Linked DNA regions of Homo sapiens. The protein of the gene in region 1 purifies or fractionates together with the protein of each later gene. This does not show direct contact. Each region holds a gene or a part of one and is shown in the gene's direction. Other genes may lie near its edges. The genes, in order: ANAPC11 and CDC27.

Region 1 (7,355 bases):
AGATCATGCCACTGCACTACAGCCTGGGTGACAGAGTGAGACTCTGTCTCAAAAAAAAAAAATTAATAAAAATAAAAGTAAAATAAAATAGAAACAGGGCTCACGATGTTTCCCAGGCTGGGTTCGGACTCCTGGGCCGGTATGATCTTCCTGCCTTGGCCCCCTGAGTAGCTGGGACTGCACTGTGGCAGGCTTATACCTGTGTTGGTGCCTAAACGTTCTAGCTCTGCAGACTCAATTTAGCCAGTCGTCCTGTTCCCTCCGCCGCAGGCTCTGCTGCCATGAAGGTGAAGATTAAGTGCTGGAACGGCGTGGCCACTTGGCTCTGGGTGGCCAACGATGAGAACTGTGGCATCTGCAGGATGGCATTTAACGGATGCTGCCCTGACTGTGAGTGTCCCCTCCATGCTGTCTGAGCGGCCCCGACTGTGAGTGTCCCCTCTGTGCTGTCTGCTGCCTGCTGGACTAGCCTCAGTAGCTCCTGTTAAATACCTGCACGAAATACCCAGTTTCATTTTCTTTTTTTTTTTTTTTTTTTGAGACCGAGTTTCGATCTTGTTTCCCAGGCTGGAGTGCAATGGCGCGATCTCGGCTTGCCGCAACCTCTGCCTCCCGGGTTCAAACGGTTCTCCTGCCTCAGCCTTCCAAGCAGCTGGGATTACAGGCATGTGCCACCATGCTGGGCTAATTTTTTTATTTTTAGTAGAGACGGGGTTTTGCCTTGTTGGCTAGGCTGGCCTTGAACTCCTGACCTCAGGTGACCTGCCCGCTTCAGCCTTCCAAAGTGCTGGGATTACAGGTGTGAGCCACTTTGCCTGGCCCACATTTTTATTTTCTTTTCTTTCTTTCTTTTCTTTTTTTTTTTTTTTTTTTTTGAGATGGAGTTTCACTCTTGTTGCCCAGGCTGGAGTGCAATGGCGCGATCTCGGCTCACTGCAACCTCCGCCTCCTGGGCTCAAGCGATTCTCCTGCCTCAGCCTTCCAAGTACCTGGGATCACAGGCATGTGCCACTACACCCGGCTAATTTTGTATTTTTTAGTAGAGACAGGCTTTCTCCATGTTAGGCTGGTCTCGAACTGTCAACCTCAGGTGATCCACCCGCCTCAGCCTCCCAAAGGGATGGGATTACAGGCGCGAACCACCGTGCCCCCCCCAACATTTTCATTTTCATCTCATGAAGAAAAGTTGATAGAAAAAAAGCCAGGTGGTTGGTACCCATGTTTATATAAAGATCCTGTCACAGACTCCATAGGATGAAACTCAGCTGTGAAATACGTGGGATTAAAAAGAGATTAGAGTCTGGGCGGGCAGATCACAAGGTCAAGAGATGGAGGCCGGCATGGCGGCCCACGCCTGTTATTCCAGCACTGTGGGAGGCCGAGGCGGGCGGATCACAAGGTCAAGAGATGGAGGCCGGCACGGTGGCTCACACCTGTCATCCTAGCACTGTGGGAGGCCAAGGTAGGCAGATCACAGGGTCAAGAGATCAAGGCAGGGTGTGGTGGCCCACACTTGTCATCCCAGCACTGTGGGAGGCTGAAGTGGATGGATCTCAAGGTCAGGAGATTGAGACCATCCTGGCCAACATAGTGAAACGCCATCTCTACTAAAAATACAAAAATTAGCTGGGTGTGTGGCGTGTGCCTGTAATCCCAGCTACTGGGGAGGCTGAGGCAGGAGAATCTCTTGAGCCTGGGAGACGGGGGTTGCAGTGAGCCAAGAGCAAGACTCCATCTCAAAAAACAAACAAAAAAAAGATTAGTTTAAACTTTTTATTTGAAAATTCTCAAAATTGAATGGCATAGGCCAGGCGCAGTGGCTCACACCTGTAATCCCACCACTTTGGGAGGCCAAGGCAGGCGGATTGCTTCAGGCCAGGTGTTCGAGACCAGCCTGGCCAACATGGCAAAACCCCGACTCTACTAAAAATCCAAAAAAATTAGCCGGGCATGGTGGCAGGTGCCTGTAATCCCAGCACTTTGGGAGGCCGAGGTGGATGGATCACCTGAGGTCAGGAGTTTGAGACCAGCCTGGCCAACATGGTAAAATCCCGTCTCTACTAAAAATACAAAAAAGTAGCCGGGCATGGTGGTGCATGCCTGTAATCCCAGCTACTCAGGAGGCTGAGGCAAAAGAATCGCTTGAACCTGGGAGGCAGATGTTGTGGTGAGCCAAGATCGCACCATTGCACTCCAGCCTGGGCAACAAGAGTGAAACTCCATCTCAAAAAAAAAGAAAAAAAGTGGAAATGTTTGATTATGTTTAGGTTGAAAGCAGAGTTTTGCATCAGCGAAATGGTTTTTCATGAGACCGAAATGAGCGTAAAGCAGAAGCAAGGGTCAAGGTTTTGCCCAGGGAGGACAAGAAGAACTCCCCAGAGGACAGTGGGGAATGGAGAGGACAGTGGGGAATGGGGAGGACCGAGAAGCTACTCACTACCCCAAGTAACCAGGCGTATTTTTGTAGGGCCAGGTGCATGCCCATATTGATTGACAGGGTCTCACTGTGTTGCCCAAGCTGGACGTGAACTCCTGGGCTCCAGCCATCCTACTGTCTCAGCCTCCCAAGTAGCATACCACCACACTCATCTGCCTCCTTTGCTTTTTTTTTTTTTTTTTTTTTTTTTTTTTTTTGAGATAGAGTCTTGCCCTGTTGCTCAGACTGGAGTGCAATGGCACCATCTCAGCTCACCGCAACCCCCACCCTTCTGAGTTCAAAGGATTCTCCGGCCTCAGCCTCCCAAGTAGCTGGGATTACAGGCATGCACCACCACAGCCAGCTAATTTGTTGTATTTTTATTTTTATTTATTTATTTATTTTCGAGACAGAGTCTCACTCTGTCACCAGGGCTGGAGTGCAGTGGCACGATCTTGGCTCACTGCAACTTCCGCCTCCCTAGTTCAAGTGATTCTCCTGCCTCAGCTTTCCGAATAGCTGGGACTACAGGCGCTCGCCGCCATGCCCAGCTAATTTTTGTAGTTTTAACAGAAATGGGGTTTCACCATGTTGGCCAGGATGGTCTCGATCTCTTGACCTCGTGATCCGCCCACCTCAGCCTCCCAAAGTGCTGGGATTACAGGCATGAGCCACTGCGCCCAGCCCTTGTTGTATTTTTAGCAGAGACAGGGTTTCACCATGTTGGCCGGGCTGGTCTTAAAACTCCTGACCTCAGGTGATCCGTCCACCTCGGCCTCCCAAAGTACCAGGATTACAGGTGTGAGCCACTGCACCCGCCCCTGTCTTTGCTTCTTAAGGTGAAATTGAGATGACTGAATCTTAGTACAATTTTTTTTTTTTGAGACAGGGTCTTGCTGTCACCCAGGCGGCAGTGCAGTGTGGCAAAATCATAGCTCACTGTAGCCTTCAATTCCTCAGCTCAAGTGATCCTCCCACCTCCACCTCTCAAGTAGCTGGGACCACAGGCATGCTCCACAATGCCTGGCTAATTTTTTATTTTTTTATTTTTTGTAGAGACAGGGTTTTGCTATGTTGCCAAGGCTAGTCTTGAACTCCTGGGCTCAAGGGATCTGCCTGCCTTGGCATACCAAAGTGCTGGGATTACAGACGTGAGCCACCATGCCTGAACAAAACTACATAAATTTTTAATTTTTTTTGTGGAAATGGAGTCTCACTATGTTTCCCAGGCTGGTCTCAAACTCTTGGCTCTGTCCTGCCACAGCCTCCCAAAGTGCTGGGATTATAGGTGTGGCGCCTGGCCCGTACAAATACTTTTTATTCTAGGCTTAACTTTTACATTGGCCCTAGCTAAATAGAAATCTCATCACTCAGGAATTAATCCTCATTTAATCAAACGGGTAGGGTGTAATCTTAGGAAATTATTGATTGACTCTACCTGATTGGATTTGTAGTTAATAGCTAATTAGGTTAATAACTAAATTCACAAGGCACAGTTTTATTTGATCTCTTTTAAATTGCTCTTAAGGATGTAACAAAGAGTGCGTGGGATGCCCTGAGGGCAGGCATTCGACTTCTGGAGCAGCAGCTTAACTTCTGAAATTCCTCCGAACCATGTGTCCACACCTCGTCTGGCTGCATCCGTGGGCCAGATGTGGGTGGTGAATCCTGTGGATTAGAGGTGGTGCTAGGTAGCCCCCAAGTGACTGCAGTGGTGGGTCCACAGGCAGCCTGCAGAGCCCGCCCTGCAGCATGCCAGCTGGGCCTGTGATGGGGCATCCAGAGGGTGTTGCCCTGAACACTCAGCATGTCTCCGCTGACACAGTGTGCTCAGGCTTTGTTAACATGGGGCCTGTTGGCTGCAGAGACTCAGGAGTTGAGAGTCTAATTTTTGGACCTGCTGATGGTTAAGTCATAGTGAGTCAGTGTTAACGCGCAAAGCGTTTGACGAGTCCAATGTGCTTCCATACTAAGCAGCACCAGGTTTCTTTTGCTAAAATTGAACTCCTGTGAAAAATTCAGAGTGACTAAGTTCATTCAACAAAGACCGTGGGAGCCCGAGGCTGGTAAACAATGAGTCCATCCCGCATCCCAGGGGACTCTGGTGGCAGTGCAGTTTTGCCGAGAGGAGTTTTAATTTAAAAAAATGCAATCAGGAGACCAGCAGGTCCTGGAATGAGTCACCCTCAGTGCATCTGCGGACTCATCAGACACCCCAGGCCGGCTTCGGGTGGGGAATGCACTAGAACGAAGTGACACCTTTGACTAAACGAGGCCTCCCCCGAGTACTCAGAGTGGCCCAGACCCCTCTCCTCAGGGGGCTAGCAGGCTTCAGCTCTCATTTGAAAGGGCCGATATCAAGCAGAGTTGTGCTGAGGCCAGAAACCCCCACGGGCAGGTCCTCCCAGGGCTGGGAGTGGGCATGCCGTGGGGCCGGCGCTGCCAGGACAGGAGGGTGGCCACGAGCTCCAGCTCCACAATGCCAGGCCGACCCTGCCGTGGGGCTGGGGCTGGGACTTGCTGTGCTCTGTTGGCAGCAGCTGTTCCTCAGGGGTTTCCAGGCTCTTGGAGATCAGGGACACTCATTTCTCTTGATCATGGCTGATACAAGCATCCCTCTCTGTGTCAGGTCCTCTCCATGGAGAAAGCATTTCTAGGTGTTTGGGCTGGTGCCCGCAGCCTGTGCCTGTCCTGGGAGGCAGGGCCCATCCACAGGTGCCCATCAACACAGCTTCCCCAACGCCTGGGCAGCACACCGGATCCCTGATGTCTAGGGAAGAGTCTTCTAGGTCCCCAGACCCCACCCCTCCTGCCCTTGATCAAGAGACCAGTTCACTACTCAGATGCACGTCTCCTTGGTGCCTTGACCATTCATGTGACCTTTTTGGCATCACAGATCAAGTGTCTGCAGATGGGCCCAGGGCCTGTAGGTCAGACATTGCCCTTTTTCCCCAGCCTCAAGCACAGGGGACACAGGGTGGGCTAGGCCAGAGCGCCACCTCCTCAGAGAGGCCCCTGGGCTCCCCACTGAGCATGATGAGCCTGGGTGAGGGGAGGCGCCTGCTGCGGTTGCCCCGGGTGGAGGCCGCATGTCCGGTGTCCCTTGGTCATTGCTGGTCTTCGCCTGGGGGCGGGCTGGTCAGGAGACCGATTGGGTAACACTCCTGATTTCGGCTTCTCTGAAACATGAGAGGCTGCAGTGCTGGAGCCACTGCCCAGGGTCCCTACCTGCACCCCTGCCTGGCTTGTCACATGCTCTGTGTCCAGCCTGGTCATGCCTGTCCTTTTCCCCACCTCCCCTCCGTAGGCAAGGTGCCCGGCGACGACTGCCCGCTGGTGTGGGGCCAGTGCTCCCACTGCTTCCACATGCATTGCATCCTCAAGTGGCTGCACGCACAGCAGGTGCAGCAGCACTGCCCCATGTGCCGCCAGGAATGGAAGTTCAAGGAGTGAGGCCCGACCTGGCTCTCGCTGGAGGGGCATCCTGAGACTCCTTCCTCATGCTGGCGCCGATGGCTGCTGGGGACAGCGCCCCTGAGCTGCAACAAGGTGGAAACAAGGGCTGGAGCTGCGTTTGTTTTGCCATCACTATGTTGACACTTTTATCCAATAAGTGAAAACTCATTAAACTACTCAAATCTTGCTGGAGGCCTCTGGGTGCCTGTGTTCTCGGCATATAGATGTGGTCTCGGTGTGTTTTGATATGAAAACTCTCATGAATAAACATCTCCGTGAAACGCCAAGGCCCTCGTCAAACCCTGAGTCATGACTGGGAGGAGAAGGAGCAGGATCAGACGGTAGAGCCTGGGGCATGCTCTTCAGGCATGCTCTTGCCTGCTGGATTGCCGGCGGCGGCCCTGGGACCCTCCCTCAGGCTGGCTCTGAGGGACCCTGGCTGTGCAAAGCTGGCGGCCACTGCTTGTGGCGCCTCCAGACTGAAGGCCACCATCTCTGAGTGGGCGTCCATTGTTCTCACTGGGACTGTCTGCAGCGGGGCTGGGCCTCCCACAGTGTAGGGATCAGTGTCCTGACACTGGGAAGTGTGTCCACACGTCTGAGGCTTCCCTTCCTAGGGAAAGGTGGCCCTGGGAGGCTCCTTTGTGTGCCTCTGCTCCCCACAATCGTGGTGGGAAGGGGCCGCTGGGGGAGTGGCAGCCCCGGCATCTCAGGCTGCTTCTGGACAGAGCACAGGCTGTGTCTCCAGTAACCTAGGGAGCCCTTGGCATTCATGGGGCCAGTGACCCGTGCCCAGTGTCTCTTGACCCTTCCTCACAGCAACCTGAGGAGTAGACCAGGCCTCACCTGAAATCTGTGTCAGGGTTCTCTAGAGAGACAGGACTCTATATGAAGAGTATATATGAAGAGTTTATTGGGAGTATTGACTCACGTGATCACAAGGTGAAGTCCCACAATAAGCCATGTGCAAGGTGAGGAGCAAGGAAGCCAGTCTGAGTCCCAAAACAAAAGTAGAGAAGCCGATAGTGCAGCCTTCATCCTGTGGCCAAAGGCTGCAGAGCCCCTGGCAAGCCACTGGTGTAGGTCCGAGAGTCCAAAAGCTGAAGAACCTGGAGGCCGACGTGCGAGGGCGGGAAGCATCCAGCATGGGAGAAAGATGGAGGCCAGATTCAGCCAGTCTAGTCTTTCCACGTTCCTCTGCCTGCTTGTATCCTGGCTGTGCTGGCAGCCGATTAGGTGGTGCCCACCTGGATTGAGGGTGGGTCTGCCTCTCCCAGCCCACTGACTCAAATGGGAATCTCCTCTGGCAACACCCTCACAGACACACCCAGTGACAATACTTTGCATCCTTCAATCCAGTCAAGCTGACACTCAGCATTCACCATCACACCTGGGAAGCATGGAACCCAGAAACAAGTGCCAGGGCTCCAGTGCCAGTGCCTGTCCTGGGAAGATACCCAAGAGAAGACATGACCAGGACCTT
Region 2 (8,322 bases), about 35 Mb from region 1:
TGGGAAAGAATTAGGAAGAGAATAAAAATAGGACAGATATATAAGATACTGTCTTTATTAAAAAAAAAACTATGATGACAGATTGCGTGTATTTGGAAAGCAATGAGAGTAAGTTGGAAAATTGTTCTTTCTTGGAATGCCTCAGAGTTGATGGTATTACTAGGCATAGGAAAAAGTTCACAGAAAATATGAAGAACTGTTTTCTGCATTTTTTTTTCTTTAAAGTTTTAATGTAGAATGGCCAGTCCGATATACCATATATGCCTAAATTAAAACTCCGTCTCAAATTACTACCTCTCAGAAGAGTATTACTTTATATTTGAGTCCTTACAAAAGTCTCACATATGAGGCAGAATTTCTGTCAGTTCTTTTATTTTTAATGGTAACTATTTGGAAAGACACACTAGCCTAAGTGACTTCAGTGAGAGCTTTTTGAATATTTATAAAAGTCACCTGGTGAAATTGGTTTTTAAAAAAGAAGCAAAGAGATTTTATATAGATTTAGCAATTATTCCTAGGGGTAAGACTTCACAGAAGTGTTGGATGAAGTTGTAAATAAGCCTTTCGAAAATTAATTTAATAAGCAATATAGCAATTGGGTACTATATACATGATACTGTTTTAGAGATCATTAGATGGTGAAGGAGTACTCTTGGCTGGGGATAAAATGTTCAGGGACAGCATCTAACATGGATTCAAAGAGTAACATATTTTGGCTACTCAATGAGAAATTTAGATTTAATGTGCATTGGTAATGAATAACCATTATATGAGCAGAAGAGTTTTTGAGCAGAGGAATTATGTAATAAAAGCACCACTTTGGGAATATTTATCTGGTGCTGTTGGAAAGGGAGGAAGAGACAAGAGTTAGACATACAGACTAGTAGAATAATCCAACTGCATGATCATGTAGACCAGGGCTGCTTAATCTGAGCACTATTGACATTTGGGGCAAGCTAATACTTTGTTGGAAGCTGTGCATTGTAGAATGTTTTGTAGCATCCCTGGCTTCTAACCACTGGATGACCCCTCCATTTGTGACAACCAAAAATACCCTCTAGACATTGCTAAATGTTGGGGCATTAATTGGGAGTAAGAAGGCAAAATTGCCCAGAGTAAGAACCACTGACGTGCATCTAAACTAAATCAGTATCCTAGAAATTCAATTATAATGTATAATATGAAATTTCAACAGTGATTTTTTTCTTTGTATCTTCTTACATTGTCTGAAGCCTTTATTATCCATTTATTTTATGGTTTTTAAAAAAGGGCAGCTGACTGGGCACAGTGGCTCACGCTTGTAATCCCAGCACTTTCAGAGGCTGAGGCAGACAGATCACTTGAGCCAAGGAGTTCAAGACCAACAAATAAAATAAAATAAAGACAGCTTTTTTGACAAAAACAAGAACACAAAATGTATAAAAAATTTAACAAAAACAAGTAAACAAATTTTTTGTAATAAGCTTTCTCTAACAAAAAATTTATAATGATTACAGGCCGGGCGCGGTGCCTCACGCCTGTAATCCCAGCACTTTGGGGGGCTGAGGCAGGCGGATCACGAGGTCAGGAGATCGAGACCATCCTGGCCAACAGGGTGAAACCATTCCTTCTCTACTAAAAATACAAAAAAAATTAGCCGGGCATGGTGGCAGGCACCTGTAGTCCCAGCTACTCAGGAGGCTGAGGCAGGAGAATGGCGTGAACCCAGGAGGTGGAGCTTGCAGTGAGCCGAGATCGCGCCACTGCACTCCAGCCTGGGTGACAGAGTGAGACTCTGTCTCAAAAAAAAAGAGAAAAATTTATAGTGATTACATTTAAGTCTAAGTACAACTTATAGAGGTTTGTTTATATTTTAAATAATATTTTATATTTAAGAATAGCTAGCTGGTAAGGAATTTTGCAACTTTAAGCTGTTGGTTTATTTATCTTTTAAATTAGTGCACCTGGGGACTAACCCATTAATCAGTCAGATTTCTCTTAAACATTTTTTAGGGGAGAGGGAGAGGAGCGTTGTTCTTTTTGGCTTCATAACTTTCTTTTAGCAGCATTTCGTTCATCTGGCTTTAATTTGTAGAACTCTAGCGGTAATGCACTGGGTGTTCTTTTAAGGGAAGGCCCACACCATCAGTTGGGCAGAGGTGCTGATTTTAGCCCTGTTCATCATCAGCTACTAATCTGTAGTGCCTTAGAGAATAATCTGTTCTTCCCCCCAATCCCGGCACAAGAGACACTGTTAGTCAGGAACTTAGAATTGATTGAGCAAAGCGGGATGGAAGCAGTATGTGAGATTCTCGAGATGGCAAGTTTTTTCTGATGCTCTTAAGAACTGGTGATAAGGGAATGATGTTCTGAGCAAAGCTTGATTTTAAGTCAGAAATGGATACAACTCTTGAATATGATACCTTTTTTCCTTCTTTTTTCCCCCCGCCCTTGCCTCTTATTTCTTTAATTTTAAAAGGACAGAAAAAATTTCAAAGCTCTAGGACTTTTTGACTTTAGTATATGTGTGTGAAATTTTCCTAGTGGTCCATAGTAGTAAAATAGCTGGTAAATCATTTGAGTCTTTTGTGGCTTATATATTGCAAAATAAGCAGTTGTAGCAGGTATGCTGGGGAGATGTTATGCAACAGAAACTACATATTTATTGAATTTCTTTATATTAAGAGATTGGCAAGGAAAAGGTTTTCCAAGTGCTTAATGTATGATAGTATACTAGGAGCATTATAAATGGATCATTTCATTTAATCCACAAAACAACTCCAATAAATAAACTCCATTTATCAGATGAAGAGATTGAGGCTGAGAAAAGTTGAGTATTTCCCACAAAGTCCCACTACTGGAAGTGCTGGCACACAAATTTGAGCACGTCTCCAAACATCAAATCTTTGGTATCTTCATTCTACTCACCATTTTCTTTCACTTACAGCAAAATTAAACATGTAGGTTCTTAGGAAATCCCAGATTTCATAAAGGAGTAATTTGGTGGTAATTATTTGCATAATAAAATAATTCTTCTATTTATCACAGAGTTTCTTTCAATAGAGACTCCCAGAGATTCTTTATTATTAGATATACATCTAGGAATACAAAGAAACTTAATGCTAAGACTAACGTACAAGAGTGTCAACAGTGGAAGACTGCTAGAAATTAAAGATCATTTGCTTATTCATTCAACATATAAGCACCTGCTTTAAAAGCACATAATGGATACTGGGAGTATAATAATGAGCAAAAACAGACGTAGCCCCTACCTTGTGGAGTTTGTAATATAGTAAGGAAAACATCACTCAAATACTCTCCTAAATTAATACAGAATTATAGCAGTGGGAAGTATTACAAAGGAAAGGTACTTGGTGCAATTAGAGTGTATAATAATGGTGCCTAATCTCATCTTTTTCCTTGTATCTAGATAGGAATGGTAAAATTAGACATCTTTGAGACTTTATAAAATTTAAGCTATATAAACAAAGGTTAAACAAGAGGCTCTGGAGATCCCAAACTAAGTTCATTACTGTTCTTTCTTGAGGAAATAGAAAGGGCTAAGTCATTTACTACTTTTATTTTTAAAATTATAATTAATATACTCATTGCAGAATTATTAAACATTTACTTGTTTGTTCAACAAAATTTGTTGAGCCTTTACTGTATCTAAGGCATATTAATCACTTAATATAATTTAGATGTACTGGTACAATGTTAGCTAGTGATCAGTAACCAGATTTTACTGGTTTCCGTTGTAACCTTTTTAAATCATTCAACAAATTATAAGCTGGTGTATGTGCTAAAAATAAAAAATAACGCTTGTATCATGATCAGGTGTGAGATATCTCAAAAGTAGTTTATTACTAAAAATGATTTGACATTACCTAGTAAAGATGAACATATGCATATTCAACAACCCAGTAATTTTATTCCTAAATATATATCCTAATTTGGAGAGATTCTTTTTTGTGTTTTTTTGATGGGAGTCTTGCTCCTATTGCACTCCAGCAGCTATTCACAGGTATGATCATAGCCTTGAACTCCTGGACTCAAGCAGTCTTCCCAGCTCAGCCTTCTGAGTCGCTGGGACTAAAGGCTCACACCACCGTGATAGGCTGGAGAGATTCTTAAATATATACCCCAGGAGATGAATCTAAGACTGTTGCAGCATTGTTATAATTGGAAAAACAAAACAAAACAAAAAAACACCCTAGAAATAACCCAAATGTCCACATGCTGTAAAATAGATAAAATACATTTTGGATTTTGATATGTTTATACAATGGAAATATTATTTATTCAGCAATGAAAACAAATGAACTCTAGCTACACACATCAAGAATGAATTTTCAAAACATTGGATTTCAAAAGCAAATCGTAGCAGAATGTATACAATATGATTGTATTTATTTAAAGTTCAAAAACAGGAAAAAGTAAATGTTATACTGCTTAGAGATGATATGTACAAATGTATAAAATTGTGAAGAAAACCAAGAGAAAGGTCAAGAAAATTCAGTGTGGTGGTTTCCTCTTTGGGGCAGGGAGAGGTTTTGGTATCAACAAGGAACACACAGGGAGTTTCAGAGATATTTTATTTCTTAAGCTGGGTGGTGAGTACATGGGCCTAAATGTCTTTGGTTATTGTTACTTAAAATGTCCTTCTATCTCATATATACTTTAGGTTATATGTTTTGTAATTCTAAAAGAGAAAACATATATTCAAAAAATTAAAAGTTATTCCTATGATAACTTTACTCATTTGCATTCCAATATGCTTCCTGGAGTGGATGAGAATTGAGTGGCATTAAAGGTAATAGATAGGGAAGTTTTTGTGGGAGGATGACATACATTTTAATATCTCTGTCATGTATATCACATAAAGTGGTTGAGAACCACTGCTGCTAAAAGTCTGTAGTTTAGTAGGGTTGGCAGTCCTGTTAACAAATAACCATGTTATGAGTGCTCTACTAGAAGAGGTATCTTAAAAAAGAAATGGCTTGACATCAGCCAGGAAAGCTTTATGGGGCAGATGTTATTTAAGCTGGATCTTTAGGGACGAGCAGTTTATAAGGGGAGACTGGTGAGGGGAGCCCACATTGCCCAATGGAGGAAAAGGGTGTACAAAGGCACAGAAGCCTAAAAGTCCATAGAGAGTTGAGTGAGGAAATTCAGATATGTTAGGAGCCATACTGTGAAGAGCCTTGCCCGGCACACTCTGGAGTTTGCTCTGTGGGCATTGGGGTTTTATCACTTAAATTAGGGATATTAATTTCAGTATTTGATGTAAGGCTGTGTGCTAGTAGTTACCTTGAAAGTCTGTATGTATGTATATTTATGTTCTTTTTCCTCCATTTGCAGGCTGCTATATGGCAAGCACTAAACCACTATGCTTACCGAGATGCGGTTTTCCTCGCAGAACGCCTTTATGCAGAAGGTTTGAAATCTATTCATTGCTGTAGAATGATAAATGAATAACATATATGAAATTCCATAACTTTTTATCACTGTAACAAGATTCTAGCTATCATCATCTTGTTGTTTTTCTGATTGACACTAGTTCATAAAATCTTTACTTTTTTTCTGTGTAGTTCCCTTACATACTACTTTTAATAACTATGTAGAATTGATTCAGGTTTATATGCTATGATTTACTTAATCATTTTTCAATCTTTAGGTTTTTTTTTCCCCCAGGGTTTTTGTTGTTTTGGGTTTTTTTTTTTTTTTTTTTTTTTTTTTTTTTTGAAACAGGGTCTCACTCTGTCACCCATGTTGGAGTACAGTGGGACCATCTCAGCTCACTGCAACCTCTACCTCCCAGGCTCAAGCGATCCTCCCACATCAGCCTCCCAAGTAGCTGGGACCGCAGGCACGGACCACCACGCCTGGCTAATTTTTTTTTTTTTTTTGGTAGAGATAGGGTTTTGCTATGTTGCCCAGGCTGGTCTCAAATTCCTGAGCTTAGGTGATCCACCTGCCTTGGCCTCCCAAAGTGCTGGGATTATACTCATGGGCCACCATGCCATGTATTTTTTTTTTTTTTTTTTTTTTTTAAGAAAAGAGTCTGTATTCTATGGTGAAGAACATGGATTTAGACTCTATAGCCTTGGAACAAATCCTAACCTGTCACTTAAATGTACAGTTTTATAACCTTGGACGAGTTACTTTAATATCTGAAAATTCAGATATTTCATCTATAAAATAATCATTGCCCCTTAGAATTAAAAATTCAATGAGATGGTTTATTTAAAGCCCTTAGCACAGCCATCTGGCTTGGTAATCAATGCTTAATAAACACCACTGATAATGTATGTTTTGTTTCTGTCATTATTATAATTCCCTTTCTAAGATGCTGATATAGATCATTGTGTACAGCTTTTTTTTTTTTTTGAGTCATTTCCTTGGGTTATGTACTTTTAAATGGAATTTACAAGTCAAACAGTATGGGTTTAGTAGCTGAGAGTTGTGAGAACAAGGCCTAAACCTCAGGGGCAGGAAATTTCACAAAAGGACAAAGAGCAATGCTTGGAAGTAGTTTTGAGAAGTTAAGTGGAAACCAGCCTTACCTTGACTCTGAGATAGTGGGATGTAAGGTGATTACTGTCCATGTGAGAGAGCTGTCTCCTCGGTGGAGAATGGGAATTCAGTGAGAAAAGTGAGGAAGATCTGGGCAGCAGGAGTTTAAGGTCCCAATGAAAAGATTAGAAAGGTGAGAAGGAATGGAAGGCTTAGAAAGAAGATTATACAATAGATTAATCTACTCCATTCACTTATGCAAAAGTGATGTTTATTGTGAATAATCTATTTAAAAATATTTTCATTGATACCTAGGCAGGCCCCATATTTTGCTGTATTTTTAAAAATTTTTGTTGAGTCAGAATCTCACTCTGTCGCCCAGGCTAGAGTACAGTGGCACAATCATAGCTCACTGCAGCCTTGAACTCCTGGACTGAAGTGATCCTCCTGCCTCAGCCTCCCAAAGAGCTGGAGTTACAGATGTGAGCCACTGTACTCGGCCACTGTCTTCTATTTCTAGTATTTCCTTTTTGTTTTTGTTTATTATTAAAGAATAGGCAGTTTCTAGTTTATTATAGTTAGGCTCTTAAAAATTGTAAATTCATGGTTTAGAATTCAATTAGATTTTCCCATAGAATTGGTGGCAAGATTCCCAGATTAGTCCACATAAAGCTGTTTAATCCACGTTATTTATGTACCTGATACAATGCTTGGCACTTGGAAAGTTGCTCAGTAAATGTTAGTTTCTTTCAATATAGAACCTCACCATTCGGTTTAACCATATTTATATGAGGAAAGATTTTAGAATTAAGTGTAGTAAGAGCAGATACTATCCTGGCTCAGTAATAATAACAATAATTCTATCACTTATTGATTTCTTACTGTATACTAGGTACTCTAAGTATTTAATATTAGTTACTAATTTAATCTTCAATAATCCTATCAAATAGACATTGCTATTGCCATTTTCTGGATGAAGAACTGAGACTAATGTCCACAGGCGGTAACTAGTAATCTGTCTGATTCCGCTTTCCCAAGAGTAGCAATTACCACTTCTCTGATTTGCAACCATAGTAGGCATCACTAATCCATTACAGTACTCATTCCCACTGAACCAACCTCAGAATTCTTGGCAACAGTTTTCTTGGTGGACAATATCAGTTGATATGCTAGATGTAACCTGTTTGCTCAGGGGCCTCCTATGTCACTAGTAGCAGTTTCTATATTTGGAGAAAGACATCCAACAAGGCATGAGGCTAAAGCAGTTGATCAGTAGGATCTTCTGTAAGTCAAATTCTTGAAATAATTTCTCAGTTTCACTAGTTCTTTGTCGCCCATTTGTCTTTCTCTCGAGATTTATAGTCGGCCTGAGACTGTGGGATCAGAAAGAAGGAACAGCAGAATGATATAAGAGAGAATCTGGGAGGCTGAGGTGGGCAGATCACCTGAGGTTGGGAATTTGAGACCAGCCTGACCAACATGGAGAAACCCCATCTCTACTAAAAAATACAAAATTAGCCGGTGTAGTGGCACATGCCTGTAATCCCAGCCACCCAGGAGGCTGAGGCAGGAGAATTGCTTGAACCCGGGAGGCGGAGGTTGCGGTGAGCCGAGATTACACCACTGCACTCCAGCCTGGGCAACAGAGCGAGACTCCGTCTCAAAAAAAAAACGGAAAAAGGAAAGAGAATCTGAATTCAGATACTCATTTGCCATTTGATCTTAAGCCAAAAGTCATTCTGAGCCTTATTTTCCTTATCTTTAAAATAGAAGAGAAATATCTGTTTAACAAGATAGTTTTAAGGACTAAATACAGTAAAATATGTA

The links.
Region 2: the proteins of ANAPC11 (region 1) and CDC27 purify together in Homo sapiens (affinity purification with mass spectrometry; 8 studies listed by BioGRID, with this or other methods). This does not show direct contact.

Annotation. Positions count from the first base shown.
Region 1 is NC_000017.11:81,894,197-81,901,551, forward strand, and holds the end of ANAPC11 (anaphase-promoting complex subunit 11), read left to right. Parts: intron 1-270; 5' UTR 271-281; coding exon 282-390; intron 391-5,045; coding exon of another isoform or gene 5,046-5,346; intron 5,347-5,723; coding exon 5,724-5,869; coding exon of another isoform or gene 5,870-5,954; 3' UTR 5,955-6,059; downstream 6,060-7,355. UniProt on the Homo sapiens protein: Together with the cullin protein ANAPC2, constitutes the catalytic component of the anaphase promoting complex/cyclosome (APC/C), a cell cycle-regulated E3 ubiquitin ligase that controls progression through mitosis and the G1 phase of the cell cycle.
Region 2 is NC_000017.11:47,178,656-47,186,977, reverse strand, and holds part of CDC27 (cell division cycle protein 27 homolog), read left to right. Parts: intron 1-5,340; coding exon 5,341-5,416; intron 5,417-8,322. UniProt on the Homo sapiens protein: Component of the anaphase promoting complex/cyclosome (APC/C), a cell cycle-regulated E3 ubiquitin ligase that controls progression through mitosis and the G1 phase of the cell cycle.